Homo sapiens: one gene and its partner. The protein of the gene in region 1 interacts with the protein of each later gene in a biochemical or structural test. Each region holds a gene or a part of one and is shown on either strand. Other genes may lie near its edges. The genes, in order: ECT2 and RACGAP1.

Region 1 (14,975 bases):
TTTGGGAGGCAGAGGCAGGAAGATAACGTGAGGTCAAGAGTTCGAGACCAGCCTGGCCAACATGGTGAAATCCTGTCTCTACTAAAAATAGAAAAAACTTAGCCAGGCGTGGTGGCATGCACCTGCAGTCCCAGCTACTTGAGAGGCTGAGGCAGTAGAATCGCTTGAACCCGGGAAAGCAGAGGTTGCAGTGAGCAGAGATCGTGTATTTATTTATTAAATAAATAAATAAATACAAAAAGCTAAAATAATTTTTGAATTTTAAGTTATACAGTAACTGATAAAAATGGAACCGTGGTATCTGTTCTGTGTTGAGAAAAATAAAAGTTTATGTATATGTATGAATTTCTGGAACCCAAGTTTAAGCAAGTAATCTTCTCTAAGACATTGTGGTATTGATAGTGTATACGCCAGGCGCAGTGGCTCACGCCTGTAATCCCAGAACTTTGAGAGTCCGAAGCGGGTGGATCACGAGGTCAGGAGATCAAGACCATCCTGGCTAACATGGTGAAACGCCATCTCTACTAAAAATACAACAAAGTAGCTGAGCATGGTGGCGGGCACCTGTAGTCCCAGCTACTGGGGAGGCTGAGGCAGGAGAATGGCGTGAACCCAGGAGGCGGAGCTTGCAGTGAGCTGAGATCGTGCCACTGCACTCCAGCCTGGGCACAGAGCAAGACTCCGTCTCAAAAAAAAAAAAAAAAAAAGGACTATGTATTTGTCTGTGTATATGCATATGTACAGTTATCATTATTTAACTTTCAAAGGCCTTAGCTTTTCACCACTAAGTTTAAAATGGAGGAATTAAAGGACCACATTAGAATAGCCACTATTATTCCTATTCTAAATATTTTGCTCTCAGCAATCAATGAGATTTTTCCAAATAAATTTTTTGCTAATTAAAATTCATTAATAAAAATTTTAACTTGAAAAGTCATAATAAATGTATATGCTTACCTCTCCTTTTTGTGAACAATTTAATACAACTGGTGGTCCAATAACTCTACAATCAGCCTTGTAGAGGTCATTAAAGACAGAATCCTGAAAGTCCGTGACTACAAATACATTTTCAAATTCCGGAGAATCCAAACCTTCAAATTCTTCCACTGACTCCATCTTTACAAAGCCCACTTTAATGTCCTTTTCATCATATAGTTAGCAGAAATAAAAATTATTTATATATCAAATAATCCATCTGTCTCTCTAAATAAGGCTTAACAATCAATTCAATATCAACTTTAACATGTTTATATTTGTAGAAAATAAGTTTCTATCACACAATAATCAGCATTACACTTAATGAACAACCATATTTCTTTACGTACTTACATTTTTACATATACATATCTCCATTCAAATTAAGTTCTTAAATTTTAAAGATCAGTATTATAAAGGCATAATTCTGACTTATTACTTATTAGTCATAAATCATCAAGTATGCATAAGTTCCATAAAATTAGAATGCTAAAGTTTTTAAGTACATGCATTTTGATATCAAGATGCATTAGAAAGATATCCACTACTGACCAAGAAAATGATACCATACATAAAGTTCTTATTGTACAAATTAACTATCTTCAGAAAAATAGGAAAATAATACTATAGCACTTAATACTTACAGAAAGGAAAATCAGCATAATCATTTTAGCAGATATGTAAGATATATGAGAAAGATGTGCAATATGTAGCAGTTGCAGCATGGCAAATGTAGGATATAAAAAGGCAAGTTACTTACAGTAAACACTTTATACATCCACGAAAAATAATGAAGATACTAAAGTACCTATATAACTCTTGTAACTCGTGTTAAATTAAAAAAAAAATTTTTTTTTAACTCAAAATGGGTCAGTAAATTATTTGAATTTTATTTGCAAGGCTAGTGTGATGTGCTAAATTATGTACCCCCAAAATTCATGTTGAAGCCCTAACCTAGAATGAAGAATGAAGTCCTTAGAGTGTGACTATATTTGGCGATAAGGACTTTAAAGAGGTAATTAAGGTTAAATGAGATAATAGGGGTGGGCCCTAATCCAACCTGGTGTCCCAATAAGAGGAAACACCAGGGATGCAAGGACACACAGAAGAAAGGCCATGTGAGGACAGCAAAAGGACACTGCAAGCCAAGGCGAGAGGCCTCAAGAGAAACTAAACCTACACACACCTTAATCTTGGACTTCTAGCCTCCAGAACTGTGAGAAAAGAAATTTCTACTGTTTAAGCAATTAACTATGTGGTATTTTGTTATGGCAGCCCTAGCAAACTAAAACAGCTGGATTCCAGAATTAGATTATTTCGTATGCTGAGGCAAATTCCCTGATTATAAATTACCGTGATTTATAATTTTGGAAATACAGCAAGAATTTAGACTAAATATAAAATGAATGAGAAAAAAGAAGCTAAGGAGTTAAAAAGTATAAAACAGTTTCTATTCATTAAGCTTCAGATTGCACACAATACACCTTGTGCCTAATTCCAATCACCAGAAAGTAGAATAATACAATCAAGGGAAGTGCAGCATGCCACATGCAATGAGTTACTTTGACCTACCATATTAATAACACTTTTTATTAATTTTTCATCCGATTTTCCAGGACAACTTTCTTTTATCTTTATAACAGGGACTTCCATTATTTTAATAGTCTGTGGAAAAGAGACTTAAGTATGAGGTTAAGAAAGCTATGAAACTATTTACACACTGATGGAAGAAAAATTGCATTACAAAAAAAACTAAAACCTAAAACTCCGTACCTTTAAGGCTTTTATAAGTTCTTCTTGTTTTCCAGCTTCTTGAACCAATATCACTCTTGTTTCAATCTGAGGCATCTCTTCTGTTAAAATGTAAAATGTTTCAATGTTTATCATGTATTAACATCACAATCAGTAGGTCCTTATCGCTCTTTTGGCTATATCTAGTATGTATTACATCTTTGAGGGAATCATAACTTTCTCTAAATTTAATAGGACTCAACTCCCAACTTATTACAAAAATATCTGGCTATATATCACTTTAGAGAAAGAGAAACCATATTGTAGCAGGGTATACAAACATCAGCATTCCTCCTAGCCAGAGAATGCGCTATCTTACATAGTCATCCTCCTCAACAGTGCATATAATTTTAGGAAAAACCCATTTATAAAGTGGTAAAGGAAAAAGTAGCTTTCACCTAACCAGTCATGACTGTATAACTTCTAGCTAATAATGCTGTAGCTAGACCGCCCTCACATACAGAAAAAGGAATATCCAAATTAAGATGCCTCCCTTTTCAAAGCTGCAAAGCATACAAATAACCCAAATAATAATCAGAAAAATGACATAGTGTAAAAGGATTCTGTAAACAAATATTTACTTAATACCTGTGCTCTAGCATTACAGTTGGTATTAAAATTAAATCTTAAGAAAGTCACTAATAAGTTTAGAATTAAAATAGAAATTGATTGTTTTAAAGCAGGTAACAGGTTTACCTTCTACATATGAAGTAGATCCAATAAGTAAGTTTTCCTTGGAAATCTCAGTAACTTTAGAATCAAAAATGGAAGAGTCTGCCAAGCTAGTCCTCCCAGTAGTGGATGTTAATACACTATTTTCAGCCATGATTTGTATTCTTCTAAATCAGCTGAAAAAATAAAATTTGAATAAAAATACATAAACATGGTCATTGGGCAAAAGTAAGTATTAGAGGCTCTTTTTACCTAGAATTTATAAAAAGTATTATTACCCATTTTTTTAATGAACCAAAGAAAGTCACTGACCTTCTCTGAGCCTCAGTTTCTTTTTCTGTAAAATAAACATACTAATACCTGACTCACAGGAATATAATAAAAATAACAATGTATCAAAAGCACATAGAACATTACTAGACATACAACAAACACTCAACTGTAGTCATAAATATTATTCTACCTCCCTTCTCCACACCTTTGCCCTCAACCAATTTCTCTTCCTATATTCAATTATAACACCACCATAACACACCTCCCACAAAAATCCTAGCCAAAAATCTGAGATCTATCCTAATTTTTTCCTCTCCCACATTTCCCTCCCCAAAATTCCTATCAATCCCACCTCAAGTATCTCTGGAATCTGGCCCCCCTTCTCTATACGTTCAATGACACAATGGTCACTTGGTCTAATAAACCAGCTCCACACAACTTTACCATCAGTTTCCTTAGAAATCACTCTCCACATGGTTTTCAGGAATATGCACCTAAATACAAATGTGACCATATCACTTCCCTGCTTAACAACTTCCATGAGTACTCCTTATATGTCCAAGTCCAAATTCACCACCAAGTTCACAATTTGGTCCCCGCCTAACTATTCACCCTCACCATCTGTAACTACCCCAGTCCCTATACAATCTATGCAACAGCAACAATGAATTTCTCAGCTATTTTTCAGGCACAAATCATAATTTACATCACATCTATTTGCATTTAGTGCTCGACTCTCCACCTATCTTGTCTTCCAACCCCCAATCCAACACTCTTGACTCATCCTCTGTGGATGTCTCTAAACCTCTCCGGTATAATTGGGCTGGTCCCTTGTCAGTATTTTCATAATTCTTTAAAAACACCTCTCCCCTAAAAGGTTTGACAAAACAATTATGCATGGGTGAGTGCCAATATAACTCTGGACTATGAAAGAAAATCCTTTTTTAAGTTTTCCAGGACTTAAGAAGAGTTTAAAAGCTAGACAGGGAATAAAAGGTTTAACAAGTTTTCATCAGGGTGGGTTGGGGGCTCACATCTGAAATCCCAGCACTTTGGGAGGCCAAGGCAGGAGGATCACTTGAGGGCAGGACTTCAACACCAGACTGGGCAACATAGCAAGACCCCATCTCTACAAAAAATTTAAAAATTAGCCAGGTGTGGGTGGCAGGTGCCTATAGTAGCTACTCAAGAGGCTGAGGTGGGCGAATCACTTGAATCCAGGAGTTTGAGGTTGTAGTGAGCTGTGATCCCACCACTGCACTCCAGTCAGTCTAGGTGACAGAGCAAGACCCTGTCTCTCTAAAAAAATTTTTTTAGAGATTTTTTTATCAATTTTCAATAAGTCAACTTTACTGAGAGTAAATTTCTAAATATTAGGCAAATATACAGAGGACCCACCTTTAACGAGAGCTACATGTCAGACTTTCCCCTTTCCTACTTCTTCAGATTAATAAAATATACAAATACCTTCCTCCAGAGTCTTAGCAAAGTAACAGTTTAAACTGTATGCTGTTATGTGACACTTCAAAATCAGGCAACTCAGCTTCCTGTCTCAGCCCTGCACATAGTCAGTTAAACCTCAGTTTCCACATTGGTGGAACACACATAGTACTACAACTCAAATCTAGTTAAGATGAAAACTGAATAGATGTCTTAAAGTGAACAACAAACAACTATTCTCATGTAATATTCACAATATGGATATTTCTTATGGCTTTACCATACATCCATGTCAATCATTATTCTAAGGCTCTCCAAAGGAGCGGTCCAATAGTTGTAACAGCCTTAATTTAGAATCAATGATAAATTCTATCCAGCCCTATTATTTTAAGTCTTCTACACTCAACCATTTCCAATGAAAAGGCATTAAAGTGGCTTTCATTCAAAGTCCCCTTAAAAGAATGTTTAAAAAAAAAAAAAAGTCAGGAGATGAGCTAACCTGCTTTAAGGACTGGAAGAGGAAAATCAAAAATACCATTTGAAAGGCCGGACGCGGTGGCTCACACTTGTAATCCTAGCACTTTGGGAGGCCAAGGCGGGCGGATCACGAGGTCAGGAGTTCGAGACCAGCCTGGCCAACACAATGAAACCCCGTCTCTACTAAAAATACAAAAATTAGCTGGGCTTGGTGGCAGGCACCTGTAATCCCAGCTACTCAGGAGGCTGAGGCAGGAGAATCGCTTGAACCCGGGAGGCAGAGGTTGCAGTGAGCCGAGATCGTGCCACTGCACTCCAGTCTAGGTAACAAGAGGTAGACTCCGTCTAAAAAAAAAAAAAAAACTTCTTGAAAATATTTACATTTTTCTCCTATGCCTCCCTCTTTAAGAGGGAGCACAGCAAATGATCAAAAGCAGATGATTAATAAAAGGGAGGGAGCATAGCAGATGATCGAAAGCAGATGATTAATAATTAAAATTGCCCCTGATGATACTGTATATGATCAATTTATTGCCAAAACAGCTTCAAAATGTATAGAGAAAAAGAGATGCACTACGGTAACTTGATGACATAACTAACATCCAACAGTCAGATTAGAAATGGAAATATATTAATCACTTTTTTTCAAATTACTGTATTCCAGAAGCCTTTAAAATAAGCACAATAGGATCAGTGTTCATAAACCTACACAGCTTCTCACCCAAGAACAGACCCAAGGAGCTTCTAACTAAACACACTATAACACATGCCCCCTTTTATCCCAGAGATAAAATTTGCCATGTAAACAAACATTCAAGTTTCCTTTTACTTAAATACTTTTTAGGCAATCATCTTCCAAGGTGAAGGACTAAAATGCAATCCAAGATATAATGGTGGTGTTATTAACAATAACATTACTATTAACAACTGACATTTACTTAACGCTTAATACGTGGCAGACATTGTCCTAAACCTTTTAATCTCTGCAGTAATCCTAAGAGGCAGGTACTATTATTATTTTCAATGTATGGATGAAGAAACGTAGGAACAGAGAGGTTAAGCAACTTCCCCTAAGTCAAACTGTTAGTAAGGGGTAAAAGAGGTATTCAAAGCCCGGCTAAATCCAGAGGCTGCGCCTTTAACCACTAAGCCGGACACATCTGTGCCGGGTGGCTGGGGAGGACGAGGGGCGGATGGCCTGGATTTATCTTGCAAAAACGAAAAATTAAACTTCCCGCAAAGAAGCCAGGATGAATCCTAGAATAAAACCACGGCGCACTCTGAGATAAGCCCCCAAAGGCTGCAAGTGCCGGCCCCCAAAGCCACAGGGCTGCGCGGCTTGCCAAAATCCCTTTCCCAACTCCCTCCCTTCACCCACACTCTTCTGTCCAAAAGAGCCAACAGGTGAGGGCGAAGATGCCCAGCAATACTGGGGGCTTCGGTCTCCCACTCCGCGTCAGGGCCCGGCTGCTGGGGGTGGGGTGCGGCGAGGGAGTTCCCGGATCCGGGAAGCCTGAGCTGGGGCGCTCCGGAATTCGCGGTCACTAGGGGCGGGGACGTCGACCGCAGGCAAAAGAGCCCTTGGCTCTGGAGCCGCTCGCCCACTTGCACCTCTCTCACTCACACAGAGTCCTTACCACTCTCAAAAAAGCCCTAGGAGTTCCACCTCTTCAAACGCCGACTCCTCTCACAAATACCGCCATTCCTCGCCGGCGGCCGCCACAACCGATTCAAAAACTAAGCTGCTCTCTCTAAGAGCCATGCCGATTGGCGCGTGATGTCAACCTCTTTCCCATAGGCAGGAGTCTCCAGAGGGGCGGTGATTGGTCGACGCTCTCCAAGTCCCGGCAGGCGCCGCTTGATTGGTTGTGCGTGTGTTTCAAATAAGCCCAACGACTCGGGCGTCGGGACGCCAGGAGTTTGCAGAGAAGTGCCCGGATGTGGCCAGGAGGTGGCGGTGGTGGCTCCTGAGGTCTTAAAGGAGTAGCAGGTGTTTCTGTGACTACCGCATATTTACTCAGTAAACATCCTACTTCCTGAGGAAAGTTTGGGTGGATTCTCCTCGGCCCCACCCAGCTTTTTTTTTTTTTTAAACGATACCAAATCTTTTAAGCTTAAATCAGTGCCGCCAGAGATAAATGTTTCCCTGCTGCTTGCTGTGAGCTGTAGGATTTTCCTATCGGGATGCTTTCTGCTTTAGGAATGTATTTAAATTTGAGTTAAGGGATTTTGACTTTGATGGTTGTATTGGCGTGTGGCAGGGCCAAGGACCGGTCCTAGAACTCGGACTCCCCAGGTGGACTTCAAATCAGCAGCCGCTTATTTAAATGCTATTATTTAAAGCACTGCGCTCCCATCTAGGGAGTATCGCGGGTTAGAATCAATTCTTAGAAATTAGAAAAATTCTCGGATTTTTTTAAAGATAAGCTTGAATTTGATAAAAATATGCCACGAGATTCTAGAATTTTTGGAGCCAAATTGCTTCGTCTTTGCCCCCCTCCGCCCACTAAGAACTTGTACTTTCCCCTAAAGTCTAGTCAAGAATGTATCAAGTTTTTCCTGTGATTAGCGTTGCTATTATGAAAATAATTTCTTTATTTTCTAAATATGATACCATATAACACAATCTCTTAAGAAAAATACACCCCCACCAGGTGGGTTTTCCATAGTTCCCACCTGAAGGCTAATATAAATAGAAGAAGAAAGGGGAATCAGATGCCAGAACCTAAATACCAATAAGAAGAGGCAAACGTGTACTTTGGGATGGAACACTTGTGAGCATCTCAAGCAGGTTGTGGGGACTTAACAATTTTTTCTAATTTTGTCAGGCAATCTTAGAATGCCTGAAAAGTTTATAATGCTGTCCACAAAATGAATGAAGCAATCTGGTAATTATTGGTTTCCCTGCTTGTCAGTATTTAAGTCTGACCTTCATTAAAATGCTGTGATAACTGTTACGGCAGAAAAAAAGAAAAACAGTAATTGAAATTTCCATTTGGAATGTGCTTGCGTATTTGGAAGTCGGGTGTGCCCAGCATTCCAAAAACGTTCATCACTGAAAACATATTAAGCTATTGTGGGAAGCAGCCCTACTTCCTTTGTGCACCGCTTTCTGCTCAACAGACTTTCCAAAGCTAATGATTAACTGTGTATGGTATCATTGCCATGAATTTTAAGCTTCCCTAACAAAAGCTGTACTTGATTTCTTTTAAGGGATGTGTGGCAGTTAGATTAACAAATAAACGGGTAATACAACCTTTTTCACTCTCTTAGGTCTTCATTTACTCAGCAAATATTTACTAATTTTAAGACAGCCATTGTGCTTGTTGGGGTTATAAAGATGAATAAGGCATAGAAAACTGCCTGTCTGGACCACACAATCTGGTGAGGGAAATTAGCAGATAAACAGATAATTACAGTATAAGGGAGAGAAGAAAGAGAATGAACATACTGATACTTTACTATGCACTTTATACCTTATTTAATCCTTAAAACAACCCACAAGTAGGTATCATAGTCCCATGATACCATGAAACTGTAGGAAAGGTTTAAGTAACTTACCCAGTGTCTCCTAATAAATATTTTAGCCCGCATTAGAACCCAGAAATAATAGATGAGTGTAAATAAAGTCTAGTATAGATCTGTCTGCAGGCTCAAAGAAAGCAATGTGGAGAGGAGTATTTCAGATAATCGTGTGCATAGGTGATCATATGCCACTTAATTGCACCTAGCAGAGGGCTGGTGTCTGGTAAAGTAAAACATGATCCCTCATCTTCAGGTATTTTCAAAAAGCTAGTACTGCAAAGGCAAATGTTACACATTGCTCTCTAATAAACACAGGAATCTTCACATGTAGGTACCAAATAAATATTTCGAGAGTGAATGAGCTAGATCCAAGTTCATTCATAATGTTTGAGAGACTGGATGTCCTGATTAACCTAATCATAGTTTATTCATTTAATAACTATTAAGCACCCATTAGGTACTATGCTAGCACTGAGAATATAGGTGTGACAAGACAAATATGGGCCTTGTTCTCATGGCACTTCTAGCAGATAGCTGTATTTGCGGTGAAAAATTTATTGCATGCATAGGTTTTCACAGAATTCAAATACCTACAAAACAATGATACAAGTAACTTAGTCTTACTGAGTCAGAAGCTGTTTCAAGTGCTATAGTGTTTCAAGATCAGCATTATGAAAAATTTTTAAATACTATATACGGCATAGGCAATTGAACTGAATGGCATATTAACCTTGAACTTTTTTAAAAACATAAATTCTTAATATTAGCTTGTTTACGTGCACTTTAGGCTCTCATAAAAGCTCAATATATATAGGAGACAGTAAACAGTTTGGTGTGGCTGGATCATAATATACATGAAGAGGACAGTGGAAGACAACTGACATACGCTAGGTTAGGCTAGGTGTGGGGGCTCATGCCTATAATTCCAGCACTTTGGGAGACTAAGGCAGGAGGATCCCTTGAAGCCGGGAGTTCAAGACCAGCCTAGGTAGTGACTGCACTCCATCCTGGGCGATAGAGCAAGACCGCCCCTCCCCCCCACCATCCAGCCCCCATCTCAAAAAAAAATAAATGCTGGCCAGGTGCAGTGGCTCATGCCTGTAATCCCAGGCATGAGATTACATGCCTTTGGAAGGCCCAGGCGGGCGGATCACGAGGTCAGGAGATCGAGACCATCCTGGCTAACATGGTGAAATCCTGTCTCTACTAAAAATACAAAAAAATTAGCCGGGCGTGGTGGCACGCGCCTGTAGTCCCAGCTACTCGGGAGGCCGAGGCAGGAGAATGGCGTGAACCCGGGAGGCGGAGCTTGCAGTGAGCAGAGATTGCGCCACTGCACTCCAGCTTGGGCGACAGAGCGAGACTTCATCTCAAAAAATAAAAAATAAAAAGTAAAATAAATGCCATGTTAGAAGGAGCTTGGGAAGAGCTCCACTGTCATGACAGAGTTTAAACTTTATGCTGAAAGCACTGAAGATCAATTAAAAACCTTGAAGCAAGGAAATTATATGGTCTGTGTTATTTTTTAAAAGTAGCGATCAGGACCAGACACAGTGGCTGACATCTGTAATCCCAGCACTTTGGGAGCCCAAGACGGGCGGATCACCTGAGGTCAGGAGTTCGAGACCACCCTGGCCAATATGGTGAAACCCCGTCTCTAAGAAAACTACAAAAGTTAGCCGGGCGTGGTGGTGCGCACCTGTAGGCCCAGCTACTCCAGAGGCTGAGGCAGGAGAATCACTTCAACCCAGGAGGCGGAGCTTGCAGTGAGCCGAGATCACGCGACTGCACTCCAGCCTGGGCAACAGAGCGAGACTCCGTCTCAAAAAAAAAAAAAAAAAAAAGTAGCAATCTGGGAACACAACACAACTTCACTTGAAATAGAAGAATGAAATAGAAGAAAGACCAGTGAGAATATGGTTGAATTCAAACTCATAGGAAATGATAGTCTGAACTAAGATAGAAAAGATGGGTTGGAGAGATAAGGAATAGGAAAAATTACTGGGACTTTGATTAAATATAGAGGATGAGAGTGGAATCAAAATATGTAAAAATTACTACATCCATATAAATTTCTGATAAATAGCAGTATCATTAAATAAATAGAACAGTTTCCAAATTCAGAAGACTAGTTCTCTGTCTTTCTTCCTTTGATGAACCAGCCAATTAGATTCACAGTTCCTTGAATTTTTGAATCCCAAAACCTCAATTCAACACTTATTTTGATGGACAATATCCTAAATGTTTTACACTCAATTGCTTTAGCTCTCAAATGTTAACTTCAAACATTCCATTCTGATTACGAAATTTTCTTCCCATCTCTTAATCCCTTTCACACATGAATCAAGGATATTTAGCCTTCAGTTCCCCCTAATGATAGCACCCCTTTCTAACCCATGGTCATTAATTCAGCTGCTGAAAGACCACCACTTTCACTGTCTTACTTCTCTTCCTGCCTCTCTGATGTTTCCTTCTCGGTTTCCTTTGCTTAGATATTATTGTTCCCCAAAGTATTATTCTCAGGCAACCCCCTTTCCCTAGGTGAACTCATTCATTCCCAGGGATTTAAGTTATATGCATATGCTTCCACGTCTCTCTTTCTTGCCAGACCTTGTTGAAACCCACTCTATAATGCCAGTTGTTTACCAATTTTTTCTGCTCCTGTGACCCACAATCCTATCAAACTCTTCATGTGCTAAAGTGAATTCTTCTTTTCCCCAGCTCTCCATCCTTTATCTCCTCTGCCTCTTGTATTTCTCTCCTGATTAGTAGAATCCCCATTCACTCTGACTCCCAAGTTGGATCTCTCAAAGTCATCTTCCTGTTCCCTTCCTCCTCTTGGTCTCCCTGCACCACCAACCCCAACACCATTCTCCCAATTTGACCTGAAAAATATTTCTAGAATCTGAATCTTCCCCCTTCAGTCCACTGCCCGAGTTTAGGCCTTCATTATCTCTCATCCAAACTATGACAAGGACAGCCTTCTAGTTGGTCTTTTGGGAACTAATCACTCTCTCTACTTCCAGTCATCAGTCACAGAATTATCTTCATTTAGAAAACTAAATATGACTATGTATCCCCCTCCTTAAAAACAAAACTAAACCAAAAGACATGGTTTCTTCACTGCTCACAGAATAAAGTCCAGTATAAGATGGACTTCCCAAGATGACTGTAACCTAATTTTCTATCACCCTCATCCCTACCACATACGCACCCTGTGTTCAGCCATACTGAACTTTTCGTCAGTCCACAAACATTCCAGGCGATTTCCTAAATCCCTACCTTTGAATATTCTTTTCCACCTGCCCTGCCTCCCTCTGTCTGCATGAAAATTCCTATTCATTCAGGACCCCACTCAAGCATCACCTCAATGAAGCCTTCTTTGACTATCCCATGGAGAGTAAACTGCTTCTTCTGATTTGTATGAGCTTAATACTGTTTATACCTCAGTATGGCTCCTGTCACCTTGTATTGGAAATATTGGTTAACATGGCTGTCTCCTCTATTAAAATATGAGCTACTCAAGAATAGGGAAAAGAACCATATCCTTTCCATCTTTGTACCCTGGCACTTGTGCTCTCAAAAAATATCTATGGAGGCTGGGCACGGTGGCTCACCCCTGTAATCCCAGTACTTTGGGGGCTGAGGTGGGCGGATCATTTGAGCTCAGGAGTTTGAGACCAGCCTGTGGCAACATGGAGAAACCCCATCACTACCAAAACTACAAAAAATTAGCTGGGCATAGTGATGCACTTCTGTGGTCCCAGCTGCTCAGAGTGGGGGGATGGGGTGGGAAGGTCTCTTGAGCCCAGGAGGCAGAGGTTGCAGTGAGCTGAGATCAAGCCACTACACTCTAGCCTGGGCAGCAGAGCACGACCCCATCTCAAAAAAAAAAAAATTATGGAAAAGAGGAAAGAAGGGAAAATAACCAGATTTTTTAGTAGTTTGATTTCTGTCCATATCTTATTTCATGTCAGAGGCTGGCTGGGGTTTCTGCATCTTTTTTTTCCATCGGTAAATTAGCAGCCATGAATACTCCTTCTCTACTTGTTACTGTTGCTTTATCAATTGTTCATGATATCAAAATAGGTCAGTAAGTTCATGTTGACTTATTACTGCATATTTCTACTTATTAACTTGGTTACGGTTTTGTGTATAAATTGGAATAAATTATCTGCATACTAAATATTAGAACATGCTTTCTAACCCTATGTGTTTCTCTTGCTCTTTTTTTTTTTTTTTTTTTGAGGTGAGATGGAGTTTGCTCTGTCACTCAAGCTAGAGGGCAGTGGCACCATTATAGCTCACTGCAGTCTCAAACTCTTGGGAACTCCTGGGCTTAAGCAATCCTCCCACTTGAACCTCCCGAGTAGCTGGGACTATAGGTGTGTGCCACCATACCCACCTAATTTTTTTTTTTTTTTAATTTCAAGAGATGGTGTCTCGCTGTTTGGCCCACACTAGTCTCGAACTTCTGGGCTCAAGCAATCCTCCCACCTCAGCCTCCTGAGTCACTGGAATTACAAGGCATAAGCCATCACACCTGGCTAACCCTATGTTTCCTAAAAATATGTGATAACTCTTTCCCCATGATTATGGGGTATCTTAGCCCATTTCATTGCTATAAAGGGATACCTAGCTGGCCATACTGGCATGTGCCTGTAATCTCAGCTACTCAGGAGGCTGAAGTGGGAGGATCACTTGAGCCCAGGAGTTCAAGGCTGCAGTGAGCCATGATTGCACCACTGCACTCCAGCCTAGGTGACAGAGTGAGATCCCACTCTAAAACAATTTTTTTTTTTAAGATGGAGTCTCACTCTGTCATCCAGGCTGGAGTGCAGTGGTGTGATCTTGACTCACTGCAACCTCCATTTGCCGGGTTTAAGTGATTCTCCTGTCTCAGCCGTCCTAGTAGCTAAGATTACAGGCACATGCCACCACTCCTGGCTAATGTTTATATTTTTAGTAGAGACAGTGTTTTACCATGTTGCCCAGGCTGGTCTCGAACTCCTGACCTCAAGTGATCTCCCCACCTCAGCCTCCCAAGGTGCTGGGATTACAGGCGTAAGCCACCATTCCTGGCCTCATGGCTCATGGTTCTGCAGGCTGTACACAGTGCCAGCCTCTGCTTCTGGTGAGGCCTTTGGAAGCCTCCACGCATGGTGGAAATGGAAGGGGAGCTGTTTTGTGCAGAGGCATCACATGGTGACAGAGGAGGCAAGAGTGAGAGGATGGAGGTGCCAGAGGCCATACTCTCATTTTTAGAAACAAGGTCTCACTCTGTTGTTCAGACTGGAATGCTAATCATAGCTCACTGTAACCTCAAACTCCGGGCTCACCTGCCTCAGAGTCCTGAGCAGCTGGGACTACAGGCATGAGCCACCACACCTGGCTTGGACTCTTATAAACAACCAATTCTTGCAGGAACTAACAGAGCTAGAACTCATTCATTACTCCCAGAACAGCACCAAGCCATTCATGGGAGATCTCCTCCATAACTCAAACACCTCCCATTAGTGCCACCTCTAACACTGGAGATCAATTCAACATGAGGTTTGGCGTGTCAAATATCCAAAGTATAACAGGGGGTAATATTCAAGGAATGTGGCTTAAAATAACGTGAGCTAATGTTTCACTCTTAAATCCCCATAGCTTAATTGCTGAAACCTGATTTCTTCCAAGTCAGTTTTCCAAGATTGCTTATGCAAATTGCCTCAAAGTAGCTACCAACACTGTTTACTTCTCTCTGTGCAGACATGAACTGAAGAGCTTCCCACTCCTAGTCTCTTAGCCTGAACAGCTCCCCAATACTTCTTCGTTTC
Region 2 (15,681 bases), on another chromosome or scaffold:
AGAAAAAAAGTTCTCAGTTCCAAGCCTGGATGCAACATATACCTGAATCAGGGCCGGAAACCAAGATTTTCAAACGGCAAGTATCTGTTCCAAGCTACATAATCACAGCAAGCTGCTAAGCAACCAGACCAACAAATTTATTACAAAGATCTTTCTCTAAACTAAGAACAAAACTAAAAGGATAGCATTAAAACCGGCAGGAAGAGCTGTGGAATTCATGGAGATGCCATGGATTTAACATATAATGAAATAGGCAACATACCCTAAGTGCTACAGGACAGAAACAGGGGCAGGACATTGGGTAGTCAATTCAAATGTTGATTTCCTTTGGCTCTCCTGAGGTAAAAATGGAAGACTCTAATCAGTAGTTTTAATATAAGGTATTACTTTCTATCATCTCGGCATTCACTTATATATCGTGAGACTATAAGACAGCTCAATACCACGGCAAAACTTCTATCTGTCCAAGAATTCAAAAAGGAAAATTTCATGGTGCTAGGATGTTGAAAACTGGTTGTTTAAAAAAAAGCTTTTTTAGGGGGGGTTTTAAGTCTTAAATTACAATATAACCTGTTCTCTTGTCCATTTTTTTTTTTTTAATTTTTTGAGACAGAATCTTGCTCTGTCCCCCAGGCCAGAGTCCACTGGCGCCACCTCAGCTGACTGCAACCTCTGCTTCCCAGGTTCAAGTGATTCTCCGGCCTCAGCCTCCTGACACTGTTCTACTCTTCCTGTTCATGTCCATCAACTACGCTACTCACTGACCTACCCTATCCCATACCCTACTGACTTCCAATTTTGATTTCCCTATTTTTATCATTCTCTCAGTCGCTCAGTTCCAAACTTCAGAATCACCTCTGGTTCCTCCCCTTCCCACAGCATAATCACTAAACCTTGTGTACTCTTCTCTCATGTATCTACCATACCCACCCCCTTATCACTTGCAGGTTGTCACCACTCACTTCAATTGCACTCCCTTCCTCCAGTCCTTCCCCTACTGCTTCAGGCAGTTGCCACTCAGATACAAACTCTTTGCACTTGAATTAAACTTTACCATATGATTCTGCCCTGTGTCCCAGCTAGAATATAAATTTGAGGGGAGAAACCTTACATGCGGCACTACTATATTACACACACAAGCATGTAGCATTTAATATGATGCTCACAAAAAAAAATTGATAAGTGTTAATTCAGAGAACAAACACACACATATCTGTGATGCTATGGTCAAAAGAATTTCCATTCTACCTCAACATCAACGTGTAATATAGTTTAAAGCAAAAAGAACAGTTAAAAGCGGGAGAGGGAGCAGAAGTCCTGGGACAAGATGGGTGTGGTGGTGCGTGCCTGTAGTCCCAGCTATTCAGGAGGCTGAAGTGGGAGGATCACTTGAGTCTAGGAGTTTGAGACCACCCTGATCATCACAAGACCCCCTTCTCTTAAAATAAATAAATAAATAAATAAATAAATAAAAAGGTCCTGGGACAAACCTTTAGCTCTTCTATCTACCAGTAGTATAATCTTCAGTAAATCACTTAAATTCCATGACTCATCTATAAAGTGAAAACAATAACACTTGCTCTATTTACCTCATAGAATATTACAAAAATTTTAAAATGTATAAGTTTACAATCTCACTACCAAAATATAAGGTATCTTTTAGTTGGTATGAAGTGAGTTTCTTTTGTTTAGGTTTGGTTTTGGTCTGATAGTTGTTACTTCCATCCTAAAACAGTGATTCTCAAATCTAGGTGTTTTCCCCCCTAGGCTGTCTCCAAATAAGGATATCAGTAAATTCAGAATTTTAGACCATTTTTAAAAATAATACTATACAATTAGAAAGAAAAGAATCCAGTATTTACTAGGTGCTTTGAAATGATTCGGGCACTAAACTAGACACTTCACGTACACTTTTTCTTTAAGTGAATTTGACTTTTTTTCTGAGACGGTGTCTTGCTCTGTCACCCAGGCTGGAGTGCAGTAGCACCATCTCGGTTCACCGCAACTTCCATTTTCAGGGTTCGAGTGATTCTCCTGCCTCAGCCTCCCGAGTAGCTGGGATTACAGGTGCCCACCACCAGGCCCAGCTAATTTTTTTTTTTGTATTTTTAGTAGAGATGGAGTTTCACCAAGTTGGTCAGGCTGGTCTCGAACTCCTGACCTCTAGCAATCTGCTTGCCTCGGCCTCCCAAAGTGCTGGGATTACAGGCGTGAGCCACCATGCCTGGCCTCACTAACTTAATTATCTCCATTTTACAGACAATGGGCAACTAAGTCCAGAAACCTTAAATTAACCAATAAATGTCGAGTTCTCATTGAAACCCAGGTCTGAGTCCAAAATCTATATTCTCTCCAACCCAACACATTGAAGAGATAAGTTACAAAAATATCAATTAGACCATATATGTTGCAGACCTACTCAGAGACCTCCTGCAAACCATAACATGTCATACAAACAGCAACACATATAAAACACAAATTATAGCTGGAACCCAGACCAAGAAGAATCAAGGAAACAGCAAAATTTGGCCAGGTCTAGGCTTTTAAACAAGCTGTTCTAGATGAGGTTTGCTGCTTCTGAAGAGTTATTTTTTCCTCTAACATAGATTTACTTAGGGTAATCCAAAAATGGCACTAGCAGAATATAATCCTCTTCTCTTTATATGCTAGGGGACCATATATTTTTATTAACATTCTACAGAAGTGACTCTCAGGAATTATTTATAGATGACAAAAATATCTTTCTATATCAGTACTAACTCTGATATCTCAGCCAAATTGTAACTCAAAAAGCTAAAATTTACTCACCCTATTCAACGTCAATTGAAAATAGTTGTAATTTTCCTGCTGGGTCACATTTTCACCCTCATGAATACTTGTTTATTTCCCCCCATGTATTATTTAGTCCATAGCTAGGAGATACACTAATGTGAAAGGAAACAAAAACAAAGTCATATTGTAGTACATTGCTTTTGCAGCTGTAAAACAGCTGTCACTTTCCACAACAGAGACTGCTGCCTTTTCGGGAAAGCTGAAACGATCCCTGCGTGCAGCAAGAAACTCAGTTTGTGGAGCACTTTAAACCAAAAGGTGCTAGAGAATCTCAGCTGTTATTGATGGGGAACCCCAGAGGTGGAGAAGTCAGTATGTTACAGATTCCCAATCTGTGAGTATCCCTAAGGGAGCAATCTGGAAACACCATGAAAGAGTCTCAGCTGGATGTGATTGCTTTGAGCCCCCAATTTAATTTCAATCACCCAGCCAAGAGGTAGATATCATCCTTCAGAAAAACAGACTATTACAGATCTTACTGCAGGGTATCCTGGGAAAAGTCTCTATCCTCTTCTTCCTCCTCCTTCAAACAACATTATTAAGAGACCTATATATCAGGTTTTTTAGATGCATCAAGGGTGTTAAATACTTTAAGACAAAGCAATGAAAGGTTGCTGGAGTTTTTCAGGAAAGTGTTTTAATGAAAAACTTTCCCACAAACATTGCTAAATCTGGAGATTTCCAAGAAATCAACAATATAGATTCCCTGCTGTCAAGGAAAACCATTCTCAAAGATAATCTCAGTACTTTAAGATCCTTTCATAGGAACACATTTGAGGACAATGTGAGGACAATTCTTTTCCTGAAATGTCCAGCTTCTGCTTCACTGTATCGAAAGTCTCTAATACAACTGGCGGACAGAAGGATTATCTTGAAACCAAATGTTCTTTATAAGCAAATCACTTGCAGAGAGTAAACAAAATGTTCTCAATCCAACATGAAGACTAAAATAAGGAAGGGAAGATTTGAATTGTGATTTTTCAGAAAATTACTAGAAGTTCAGCATACTGAATACCTCTTTTTTTCCCTGTGAATTCTTCCTATTCTGGTCTTCCATCCTTCAAGGTCTAGAATAAGTCTCACCAATTCACTGAAGCCTTCCCTAACCATTTCAGTCCAAAATGATTTCCTTTATTATCTATAACATTCATTTAGCAGATACAAAAATACTGTTTATTATTAATCTTCTATGTTCAAAAAGTTAACAGTAAAACAGGCTAGGTGTGGTGGCTCACGCCTGTAATCCCAGCACTTTGGGAGGCTGAAGCAGGTGGATGACCTTAGGTCGGCAGTTTGAGACCAGCCTGATCAACATGGAGAAACCCTGTCTCTACTAAAAATACAAAATTAGCCAGGCATGACGGTGCATGCCTGTAATCCCAGCTCCTCAGGAGGCTGAGGCAGGAGAATCGCTTGAACCCGAGAGGCAGAGGTTGCAGTGACCCAAGATGGCGCCATTGCACTCCAGCCCGGGCAACAAGAGTGAAACTCTGTCTCAAAAAAAAACAAAACGAAAACAAAAACAAAAAATTAATAGCAAAACAAAAATCTCACTATCCTAAACAACTATATGTACCATCTGATCTAATCTTTGCCCATTTTACACTCTTATTTCATGGTGTTACAATCATACATTACATATAATTTTGTGTTTTGCTTCTATCATGTTTCCATTAAGTTCTAAAGAGTTGATGAACAACTATTTAACTATTCTCTTCTTTGGACGTTTAGGTCATTTCCAGTTTTTCACTTACCTCTGCCTGGAATCTCTTGCATGGTCACTCTCTCACCTCAAATATCTTTACTCAAATGCTGCTTTCTCAGTGAGGTCTTTCCAACCATCCTATTGTAAACTGCAGCCTTTCTCTAACATTACCCTGCTTTACTTTGTTCCAAAGCACTTCTCTCCATCTAACATACTTACATATTTATTCAGTTTATTGTCTGTTTCTCCTCTAGCTTAAGTTCCAAGAAAGCGGAGATTTTTGTGTTTTCTTCCCTGATGCCTAGAACAGTACCTGACATTTGGTAAATGACTAATAAATATTTGGTGAATAAATGAATTGAGCATTCCTATGGACAATATTTTTCTTCAGGTGACTGTTTTCCTTAGACTAGATTTCCAAGGCTAGGAGTGCTATATTAGGGTGTAAAAACATTTTATGGCTCTTAATAGTGCCAAAAAGTTTTCTAAAAGGGATGTACTAATGCACAGTACTTTCAACAGTGTATAGGCTTACCAGACTCACCAGTTATCTTTTTAAGTTCTGTTACCCCAAATTAACTGCACATTCTTTAAGACCAAATAAGACTGTCTTCTACTTACACTTTGCACTTAAGAAATACCTATTGAATGAAAGTAAACAGGCCAGGCATGGTGGCTGACGCCTCTAATCCCATCATTTTGAGAGGCCAAGGCAGTCTGATCACTTGAGGCCAGAAGTTCAAGACCAGCCTGGCCAACATGGTGAAACCGTATCTCTATTAAAAATAAAAAATTAGCCAGGCATGGTGGTGCACACCTGTAATTCCAGCTACTCCGGAGGCTGAGGCAGAAGAATCATTTGAACCCGGGAGGCAGAGTTTGCAGTGAGCCAAGATCGCACCACTGCACTTCAGCCTGGACCACAGAGCAAGACTCCTTCTCAAAAAAGAAAAAGAAAAAGAAAAAAAAAGTAAACTAGTACAACCTTTATGGAAAACAGTATGGAGACTTCTCAAAGAACTAAAAATGGAACTACCATTCAATCCAGCAATCCCACTAATGGGTATAAGGGTAAGAAATCAGTATATCGGCCGGGCGTGGTGGCTCATGCCTGTAATCCCAGCACTTTGGGAGGCCGAGGTGGGCAGATCAGGAGGTCAGTAGATCAAGACCATCCTGGCTAAAACGGTGAAACCCCGTCTCTACTAAAAATACAAAAAATTAGCCGGGCGTGGTGACGGGCCCCTATAGTCCCAGCTACTCGGGAGGCTGAGGCAGGAGAATGGCGTGAATCCGGGAGGCGGAGCTTGCAGTGAGCCGAGATCGCGCCACTGCACTCCAGCCTGGGCGACACAGCGAGACTCCGTCTCAAAAAAAAAAAAGAAATCAGTATATCAAAAAGACCCCTGCATTGATATATTTATCACAGCAGAATTTACAGTAGCAAAGATACGGTATCAACCTAAGTGTTCATCAACGAAGGATTGGATAAAGAAAATGTAATATATAGACAGACATACACCACAGAATACTACTCAGCCATAAAAAAGAATGAAATCACGTCTTTTGCAGCAACATGGATAGAACTGGAGGCCATTATCCTCAGTGAAATAACTCAGAATGTCAAATACCGCATGTTCTCACTTATAAGTGAAAGCTAATCAATGGGTACACAGACATACAGAGTGGAATAATACACACTGGAGAATACAAAAGATGGGAAGGTGGAGGGGGCTGAGGGTTGAAAAACTACGTATTGGGTACAATGTTCACTATTTGAGTGATGGGGACACTAAGAGACCAGACCTCACCACGACGCGATATATGCATGTAAGAAATCTGCACTTGTACCCCCTAAATATACAAAAATTTTTTTAAGTCCCCTCCAAAAGATAAATACTTATTGAATGATTAAGCTACAGGAAAGGCGCCTTCTCTAAACACCTACAATAACTCGGAAAGCTTATTTACCCGACACATTAGAAAGATAATGCTTTCTTAAAAAAAAAAAGGGCTTATCTACCCACCTACCCCCACTTTCCGACACACACCTCTCGGCCTACGGATGAAATCCTGTGAAGAGAAATGTACGTGAAAGTGTACAAGTAAGGCCTCGTTGTTACTGAGGGTAAGAATCAGGATGAGAAGGACAAGATGTCATTGCCTTGCCTTGCCTCCCTAGACATACGAGACCCACGAAGTAGAGGGGCTCCACTGCAGGCCGCCCGGGCCTCTCAAACACCAGGGCTCTTCCCTTCGAAAACGATGGGGTGTCACTCCAACCACTCTTAAACTCGTATCTGACTGAGAGACTCTTGTTTAGGATGACTCCTGCCCTGGTCCAGCCACCACCTCAAAAAGACGCCCCCGGCTTTCCACAAAACCCGGCGCCAAGACAGAAGCCCCCGACCCTCCCAGGCCGCGTCCATTCGACCTGCCACGACCCCCACCCCAGAAAAGCCCGAGTGGAGAGGCTGTGGCTGCCAGCCTGTCCCGCTGTCCCGCTGTCCCGGACCCCCGCGGCGGCCACGGCTCACCACACGAACACTCTGCTTCCTATCACAATCCAGCGGCAGACGCACCTGGTCTGGCACCCCCACTACTCACTTCAGTCAGCCTGGCCCCACCTGGGCCACCCTTCACTTCGCTCCGCGCCTCACCCAACGGCAGAGCAGCGCCGCGCCCACAGCTCCGGTTTGAAAACCTTCACCAACCAATCACAGAGAAATTTATTCCTCCCGCGCCGTCCCTCTACGGTGTGACGTACGCGTCAGGGCCACGCGGAGGTGACGGGAACGGGAATGAGCATGCGCATTCTGACAAAGCGAAGCCAAAGGTGGCCATTTTGACTAATGTCAACGGTTTTTCGGTTTTTTTTGTTTTTTTTTGCGGTGCCCTTTCCGGAAGTCATTCAGGATGCCATATTGACTAAGGGCAAGTGGTACTTCCTGAATGCGAATTATTCTTGGTCTCACTGTCTGCGGGACTAGGGCCCTTGGAAACGATTAACTGAACAATGTCAGCTCTCACAGTAGAATCAGAAGAATACCAGGAGTTAGAACAGCAGTTAGTTTCAAGCACATTCACTGAGCTATATTATCCCTTCCATTGATGTATCCATTCAGACTTTTATTTGACACACATTGAATGAGCCCACATCATCACAAGCACTCCACTGGGAATCGGAAAAATAAAGATGGTATGGTCTCTACTGTCCAGTAGCTACGAATGGAGGCGATAGCTCTAGAAAACAAAAATAAATACAAAATGAAAATAAAATACTATAATTCCATTTAATAAACGTTATTTAGAACTTGGCATTGTGCTAGCACAGGAGCTTTCATGCTTTTTAAAAACTCTGGACCCACAGTGAGAAATACATTTTACGTTGCAACCGGGTAATGAAAACTCTGCTCATCCTTACTACATGCAAAGTACCCAGAACTCACTACTCAACAACGCATGGCTACCCGCAATTTGGAAAAATACTGGCTGGAGCATACAAGAAGCGCTGTGGTTTAAAGGAAAGATCACTTACTGTCACATTGGTCCTTAATTTAAAAAAAAAAAAAGAAAAGAAAGATCACAGATTTGGGGGAGGGAGATTAGGGAGATGTTGGTCAAGAGATATAAAATTTCAGTTAGAGGAAAATTTAGATCTATTGTACAACACAGTGACTGTAGTTAATAACAAAGTATAATGCATTTGAAAATTGCTAAGAGTAGATCTTAAATGCTCTCACCACACACCTCAATAAAGTATGTGAGGTAATGGATATATTAATTCGCTTGATTTAGTCATTCCACAGTGTATACATACATCAAAACATCACCATAAATATATAAAATTGTATTTTATCCAAAAATCACATCACAAATTTTGTAACCCGAAAATTTGACTCCACTTTTATTTTAGAGACAGGGTCTTACTCTGTCACGCAGGCTGGAGTGCAGTGGCACAATTATAGCTCACTGCAAATATGAACTCCTACACTCAAGGGATCCTCCCTCATACCTAGGACTACAGGCACATGATCAAGGTAATTCTTTTGCTTGTTTGTTTATCTTTTGTAGAGAAGGGTCTCACTATGTTGTCCAGGCTAGTCTTGAACTCCTGGCCTTAGGTGATCCTCCCACCTGAGCCTCCCAAAGCACTGGGATTACAGACAGTAGCACTCCACCTGGCCTTGAACAATAGCAGGCGTTCGGCTGACCCACCCATATTATCACTTTTTAATACTTCTGTACTTCACTTCCTCCAAGTATAATGTAGAAATAATAATCCCATCTCTATCTCACAGGTTTATTCCCAGATCGACTGAGACACAGTGTGGTACACTATCAAAGTTTATACTTGGTAAACTGCAATACAGATTATTATTAATATTATTAAGAAAGGGATGAAGAAAGAAAATATGAACTGTGCATTTGTTATCCCATTTAATCCTCCTAACAACCTTTCAAGGTCAGGAGCATTCATTGATTGCATTAGCCTGTGCCTGCTTAGATACCTATAATAAAATGAAATAAGTAGTAGGACAAAGACATGTATAAAGTACTTTAGGAGCACAGACAAGGAAGCAATTAATCCTATCTGGGGAGTGGGAGTGTTAAAAAAGCCTGCAGAGACTGATCTGAGCTGGGTCTTGTGTGAATAGGAATTTACAGGAGAGAAGGGAATGGAAAATTACTGGCAATAGGAAGATCATGTGACCTCTGAAGAATGAGGCAAGCATATATTTAATAAATACACAAGGCCAGGCACAGTGGCTCATGCCTGTAATCCCAGCACTTTGGGAAGCCGAGGCGGGTGGATCGTGAGGTCAGGAGTTCGAGACCAGCCTGGCCAACATAGTGAAACCGCATCTCTACTAAAAATACAAAAATTAGCCAGGCGTGGTGGCAGACGCCTGTAATCCCAGCTACTCGGGAGGCTGAGGCAAGAGAATCGCTTGAACCCGGGAGGCAGAGGTTGTGGTGAGCCGAGATCATGCCACTGCACTCCAGCCAGGGCAACAGGGCGTGACTCCATCTCAAATCAATCAATCAATCAATCAATCAATACACGAGAAAGCGTTTATGAAGGTTTAGGCTGTGAAGGAACATTTACCTCAACTTTCAGGTGATGTTGGGGGTTAAGTGAGTGTGATGCTTCTTGAGTAGCTTTGGCCTGAGAAGGAAAAGGAGAGACTGGCAAAGTAGGATGAGACCACACTAGGAACGGATTGGACTTGATCCTGTAACGGACTCAATGACAAGACAATGGGACTTGGACTGACTTGACTGATTTGTCTTTGGATAGAACATATGCTAACATGGCAAGCAGGATTGTCTGGAAAGGGAAAAATGTAAAGGTAGACTCTCTATTTAGGCCAGTGGCAGTGGGATGACAAGGAGGGGACAGGTGGGAAAGATATTTATGAAATCAATCAATGAAATGAAATGGACTTATTAAATGATTGGACCTCAGGGGTGAGGGAGAGAAGCAGGGGAGTGTAGAATGCCTCAGCTTTCTCTCTTTCCCTTACACCTCAATTACTGAGTGAAACTCCTAAGTACAGATCTCTTGTGTGTGCCCACTTTTCTCCTTCCCCCTGTCACTACCCTTGTCCAATCTGGTAGTCCAACCCCAGTGAAACTGTTTGCCCTCCCTTGCATTCTTTACTCCTCAAGTGATCTTTTAAAAATGCAATTATGGCTGGGCGAGGTGGCTTACGCCTGTAATCCCAGCCCTTTGGGAGGCCGAGGCCTGTGGATCTCTTGAGATCAGGAGTTCGAGACCAGCCTGGCCAACATGGTGAAAACCCGTCTCTACTAAAAATGCGAAAAAAATTAGCCAAGTGTGCTGGTGGATGCCTGTAATCCCAGCTACTTGGGAGGCTGAGGCAGGAGAATTGGTCGAACCTGGGAGGCACAGGTCGCGGTGAGCTGAGATCATGCCATTGCACCCCAGCCTGGGTGACAGAGAAAGACTCTGTCTCAAAAAAATAAAAATAAAAATGCAATTATGGCCGGGCACAGTGGCTCACACTTGTAATCTCAGCACTTTGGGAGGCCAGGGCAGGCAGATCACCTGAGGTCAGGAGTTCAAGACCAGCCTGGCCAACATGGTGAAACCCTGTCTCTACTAACAACACAAAAGTTAGGCCGGGCACAGTGGCTCATGCCTGTATTCCCAGCACTTTGGGAGGCCGAGGTGGGCAGATCACGAGGTCAAGAGATCGAGACCATCTTGGCCAACATGGTGAAACCCTGTCTCTACTAAAATACAAAAAATTAGCCAGGCGTGGCGGCGTGCGCCTGTAGTCCCAGCTACTCAGGAGGCTGAGGCAGGAGAATGGCTTGAACCTGGGAGGCAGAGGTTGCAGTGACCCGAGATCGCGCCACTGCACTCCAGCCTGGGCGACAAAGTGAGACTCCATCTCAAAAAAAAAAAAAAAAAAATTAGCTGGGCATGGTGGTCTGCACGCCTATAGTCCCAGCTACTCAGGAGGCTGAGGCAGAAAAATCACTTGAACCCGGCAGGCAGAGGTTGCAGTGAGCTGAGATCGCGCCACTGCACACCAGCCTGGCAACAGAGCAAGACTCCATCTCAAAAACAAACAAACAAACAAACAAACAAACAAAAAACAGCAGCCGGGCATGGTGGTGTGTGCTTGTAATCCCAGCTACTCGAGAGGCTGAGTCAGGAGAATCGCTCTTGAACCCGGGAGACGGAGGTTGCAGTGAACCGAGATTGTGCCACTGCCCTCCAGCCTGGGTGACAGTGCGAGTCTCTGTCTCAAAAAATAAAATTTAATTTAATTAAAAAAAAATTTGAGGGCTGGGCACGGTGGCTCACGCCTGTAATCCCAGAACTTTGGGAGGCCGAGGTGGGCAGATCACGAGGTCAGGAGATCATGACCATCCTGGTTAACATGGTGAAACCCCATCTCTACTAAAAATACAAAAAATTAGCTGGGCGTGGTGGCGGGCGCCTGTAGTCCCAGCTACTCGGGAGGCTGAGGCAGGAGAATTGCTTGAACCTGGGAAGTGGAGGTTGCAGTGAGCTGAGATTGCGCCACTGCACTCCAGCCTGGGCAACAGAGCGAGACTCCGTCTCAAAAAAAATAAATAAATAAAAATTAAAATGCAATTCTACTACAGAAATGATGACTATGTGAAGTGATGCATAGCTTAATTAATGAGCTAGATTTGGCCAGACAAGCTGTGGCTCATGCCTGTAATCCCAGTGCTTTGGGAGGCTGAGACGACAGGATCACTGGAGGCCCGGAGTTCAAGACCATCCTGGGGAATATATCGAGACCTCCTCTCTACAAAAAACTGAAAAATTAGGCTCCTGTGCCTATGGAGTAGCCACTCATTTATTCCTTTACTTTCTTAACAAACTTGCTTTCATTTAAAACAAACAAACTAGCTGAATGTAGTGGGCTTGGCTAGTCCAGCTACTTGCAAGCCTGAGGCAGGAGGATCACTTGAGCCCAGGGGTTCAAGGCTGCAGTGAGCTATGATTGCACCACTGCACTCCAGCCTGAGTGACAGAGCAAGACCTTGTCTCAAAAAAAAAAAAAAAAAAGCAGCTATATTTAATCATTCCATAATATATGTACAGTCTGAGAGCACGTGGTAGCTCACACCTGTAATCCCAGCACTTTGGGAGGCTGAGAAGGGTGGATCACTTGAGGCCAGGAGTTTGAAAACAGCCTGCCCAACATGGTGAAGCCCTGTCTCTACTAAAAAATACAAAAATCAGTCGGGCGTCGTGGCACATGCCTATAATCCCAGCTACTCAGGAGGCTGAGGCAGGAGAATTGCTTGAACTCAGAAGGCAGAGGTTGCAGTAACCCGCGATTGCGCCACTGCACTCCAGACTGGGCGACAGAGTGAAACTCTGTCTCAGAAACAAAACAAAACAAAAACCATAATATATATACATTATACTTCAAAACATCATGTTGTACATGATAAATATGTTCAATTTTATGTCTTTTGTGTGTGTGTGTGTGTGAGACGGAGTTTTGCTCTTTCACCCAGGCTGGAGTGCAATGGCGTGATCTCGGCCCACTGCAACCTCCGCCTCCCAGTTTCAAGAGATTCTCCTGCCTCAGCCTCCAGAGTAGCTGGGATTACAGGCGCCCACCACCATGCCTGGCTACTTTTTGTATTTTTAGTAGAGATGGGGTTTCACCATGTTGGCCAGGCTGGTCTCAAACTGGTGACCTCAGGTGATCCATCTGCCTTGGTCTCCCAAAGTGCTAGGATTACAGACGCCACCGCGCCCGGCCAATTTTTAAAAATAAACTTGAAAAAAAATGTTAAAGTAAAAATGTGATTCTAATCATATATCTCCCTTGCTTAAAATCCTTAATGACTTCAACTTGCCTTCTAATAAAGACTAAAATTCTGCCGTGCGCGGTGGCTCACACCTGTAATCCCAGCACTTTGGGAGGCTGAGGCAGGCGGATCATTTGAGGTCAGGAGTTCAAGACCAGCCTGGCCAACATGGTGAAACCCCGTCTCTACTAAAAATACAAAAAAATTAGCCGGCCATTGTGGTGTGTGCCTGTAATCCCAGCTACTCAGGAGACTGAGGCAGGAGAATTGCTTGAACCTGGGAGGTGGAGGCTGCAGTGAGCCGAGATTGCACCACTGAACTCCAGCCTGGGCAACAGAGCAAGACTCCATCTCAAAAAAAAAAAAAAAAAAAAAAGACCAAAATCCTTTACAAGGCCCTCCTAGGCTGCTTTTGCTCGCCCTTCTAGCTGCACTGCCCAACCCTCGTTTGCAGTTCCTCCACGCACCTGGCTACCATTTCCACCTGGGGCCTTCAACCTTCCCTGTGCGCCAGCACTCTCCGGAACTTCCCGAACTTCCAGTGCCTCTTCACCAGGATAAGTTCTACTCACCCTCTAGACAGTTTAAACTTAAACGCTGATGCCTGGGTCCGTGCCTTTGGCATAAACTCCCGCAGCACTGTGTTCTCTCCCTTTCATACTCCTGATTTGTTTAGGCTTCCTGGTTCTTCCAGTCACTGTTACACGGCCTTTCACAGGTCAGCTGTGGCTTGACTTGCTCATCTATAAATGGAAATAATAATAATAATAATACTGCACTTTGGGAGGCCAAGGAGGGTGGATCACAAGGTCAGGAGTTCAAGACCAGCCTGGCCAACATGATGAAACCCCATCGCTACTAAAAATACAAAAATTAGCCTGGTGTGGTGGCACGTGCCTGTAGTCCCAGCTACTTGGGAGGCTGAGGCAGGAGAATTGCTTAACCTGGGAGGCAGAGGTTGCAGTGAGCCAAGATTGTGTCACAGCACTCCAGCCTGGGTGACACAGCGAGACTCTGTCTCAAAAATAAATAATAATAATAATAATAATAGTTATTTCCTAGGGTTGTCGAGAGGAATAAATGAGTTATCCTTATAAAACACTTAGCACAGTTCCTGGCCCACTGTAAACACTCTGCAATGCCTATTTTCCCTACTAGACTATGAACTTCCAGAGAAGAAGGGATGGTACTCCTTCCATGTACTAGTCTTGCTTTTGCAGCTCCAATAAATAGCTGTGTAATGGAGGTGAGTTAAGTTCAATAGGACGGTGTCCCAAATAATGGATGGGGGTTGGAGATGCTGTCTCTCTTACACCTGCCTCTACCCAAAATACCACCCACCCTTCCAATTCCTCTCAATCTCCTTCCCTGCTGCACCCGCCCCAGCGAGAAGGCAGCAAAGGAAAAGGTGAGTGTGTGTGTGTGTGTGTGTGTGTGTGTGTGAAGCGGGGTGGCGTGGGGGCGCGGGTTCCTAACTCCCTTTCTTCCCAAACTGTAGCTTCCAGAGTAGGGAGGGATCCTGGGGCTGCACTTGTAACCGGAGAAGCTTGAGAGCTTTGAGAGCTGGTGCCAGAAAGCTTGGGTTCGATTCCCCGCTCTGCCACCTAGGAGAGGTGCAGTATCCGGTTATTTAATCTCCCATGTCCGGCGAGACGCGCGCTCTGAGTGCTTCCGAGGTGCGGGAGAGGTCAGGCTGGAACGCGCCTGTTATCCCGCGCGGGGGCGGCAAGCGGGGGCGCCCCCCTCCCACGCGCTCCCCCGCGCCCAGGCACCAATGATGGGGTTGGTGCTGATAGGTGGTTGCGGGTGACCTCCCGAGCGCGCCCGTACCCCACCGGCCCTCACCTCCCCAGGGGCGGCCGCCTGATCCGATGTCCCGACAGGCGAACTGTCATCGACGATCCCTGGACGCGGGCGTCGGGGGCAGGGAGGCTTGGCTAGGTCCCTGGCTGCCAACCGTCTGGCCACAGCCCGATGCGTGTCTTCATTCTCTCGCCTTCGCTGGGTTCCGCCTCCCATGGCCTTCTCACTTGCCCTCTGGAGGTCTGGCTCCCTACCTCCCATCCAGGATTATCGTTCCCCCTGTGAATTACACCAAGAAGCTTTGAGCCCTTCTGCCTTCCAGGCTGTGCGCTAAGCCCAGGGGCGGGGGTGGGGCGATGCGGGGTGCAAGGCCAGGGCCTGCAGCGCAGAGTGCGGAGGTGGGGGCTGTGTTCTGGGGGTCCAGGGAGGGAGGGCCCACCTCTGGCTGGGACTCAAGACTGTCAAAGAAGAGACCTCTGAGCTGAGCTTTGAAGGATGAATAGGACCCCAACAGGGAGGAGGCTGGGGACTGAAGTAGGCAGGAAGTGCTGAGAGAAATAGGGAAGTCAGTCCAGCCTGACTGGAGTGAGAGGATCTTGGCTGGGGGGCGGGTAAGGCTGGGAGGACTTTTTTTTTTTTTTTTTTTTTTTTTTTGAGACAGTGTCTCGCTCTCTTTCCCAGCCTGGAGTGCAGTGGCGCGATCTCGGCTTTCTGGAACCTCCACCTCCCAGGTTCAAGCGATTTTCCCACCTCAGCCTCCTGAGTACCTGAGATTACAGGCGCGCACCACCACGCCCAGCTAATTTTTGTGTTTTTAGTAGAAATGGAGTTTCACCATGTTGGCCAGGCTGGTCTCAAACTCCTGACCTCAGGTGATCCTCCCATCTTGGCCTCCCAAAGTGCTGGGATTACAGGCCTGAGCCATCACACCCCACAGGCTGGAAGGACTTTTGAGAGCAGAGCTGAGGTACCTTGAATGACAGGCCAGATAAATTCAGTGTAATTCC

Evidence for each region.
Region 2: the proteins of ECT2 (region 1) and RACGAP1 form a complex in vitro, tested with the Homo sapiens proteins (3 studies listed by BioGRID and IntAct, with this or other methods).

Annotation. Positions count from the first base shown.
Region 1 is NC_000003.12:172,743,148-172,758,122, reverse strand, and holds the start of ECT2 (protein ECT2), read right to left. Parts: upstream 7,398-14,975; 5' UTR 7,266-7,397; intron 7,122-7,265; exon of another isoform or gene 7,007-7,121; intron 5,974-7,006; exon of another isoform or gene 5,651-5,973; intron 3,615-5,650; 5' UTR 3,593-3,614; coding exon 3,463-3,592; intron 2,829-3,462; coding exon 2,749-2,828; intron 2,641-2,748; coding exon 2,548-2,640; intron 1,141-2,547; coding exon 958-1,140; intron 1-957. UniProt on the Homo sapiens protein: Guanine nucleotide exchange factor (GEF) that catalyzes the exchange of GDP for GTP. Promotes guanine nucleotide exchange on the Rho family members of small GTPases, like RHOA, RHOC, RAC1 and CDC42.
Region 2 is NC_000012.12:50,018,254-50,033,934, forward strand, and holds the start of RACGAP1 (rac GTPase-activating protein 1), read right to left. Parts: upstream 7,242-15,681; 5' UTR 7,145-7,241; exon of another isoform or gene 7,075-7,144; intron 2,925-7,074; exon of another isoform or gene 2,809-2,924; intron 1,554-2,808; exon of another isoform or gene 1,491-1,553; intron 337-1,490; exon of another isoform or gene 299-336; coding exon of another isoform or gene 263-298; intron 1-262.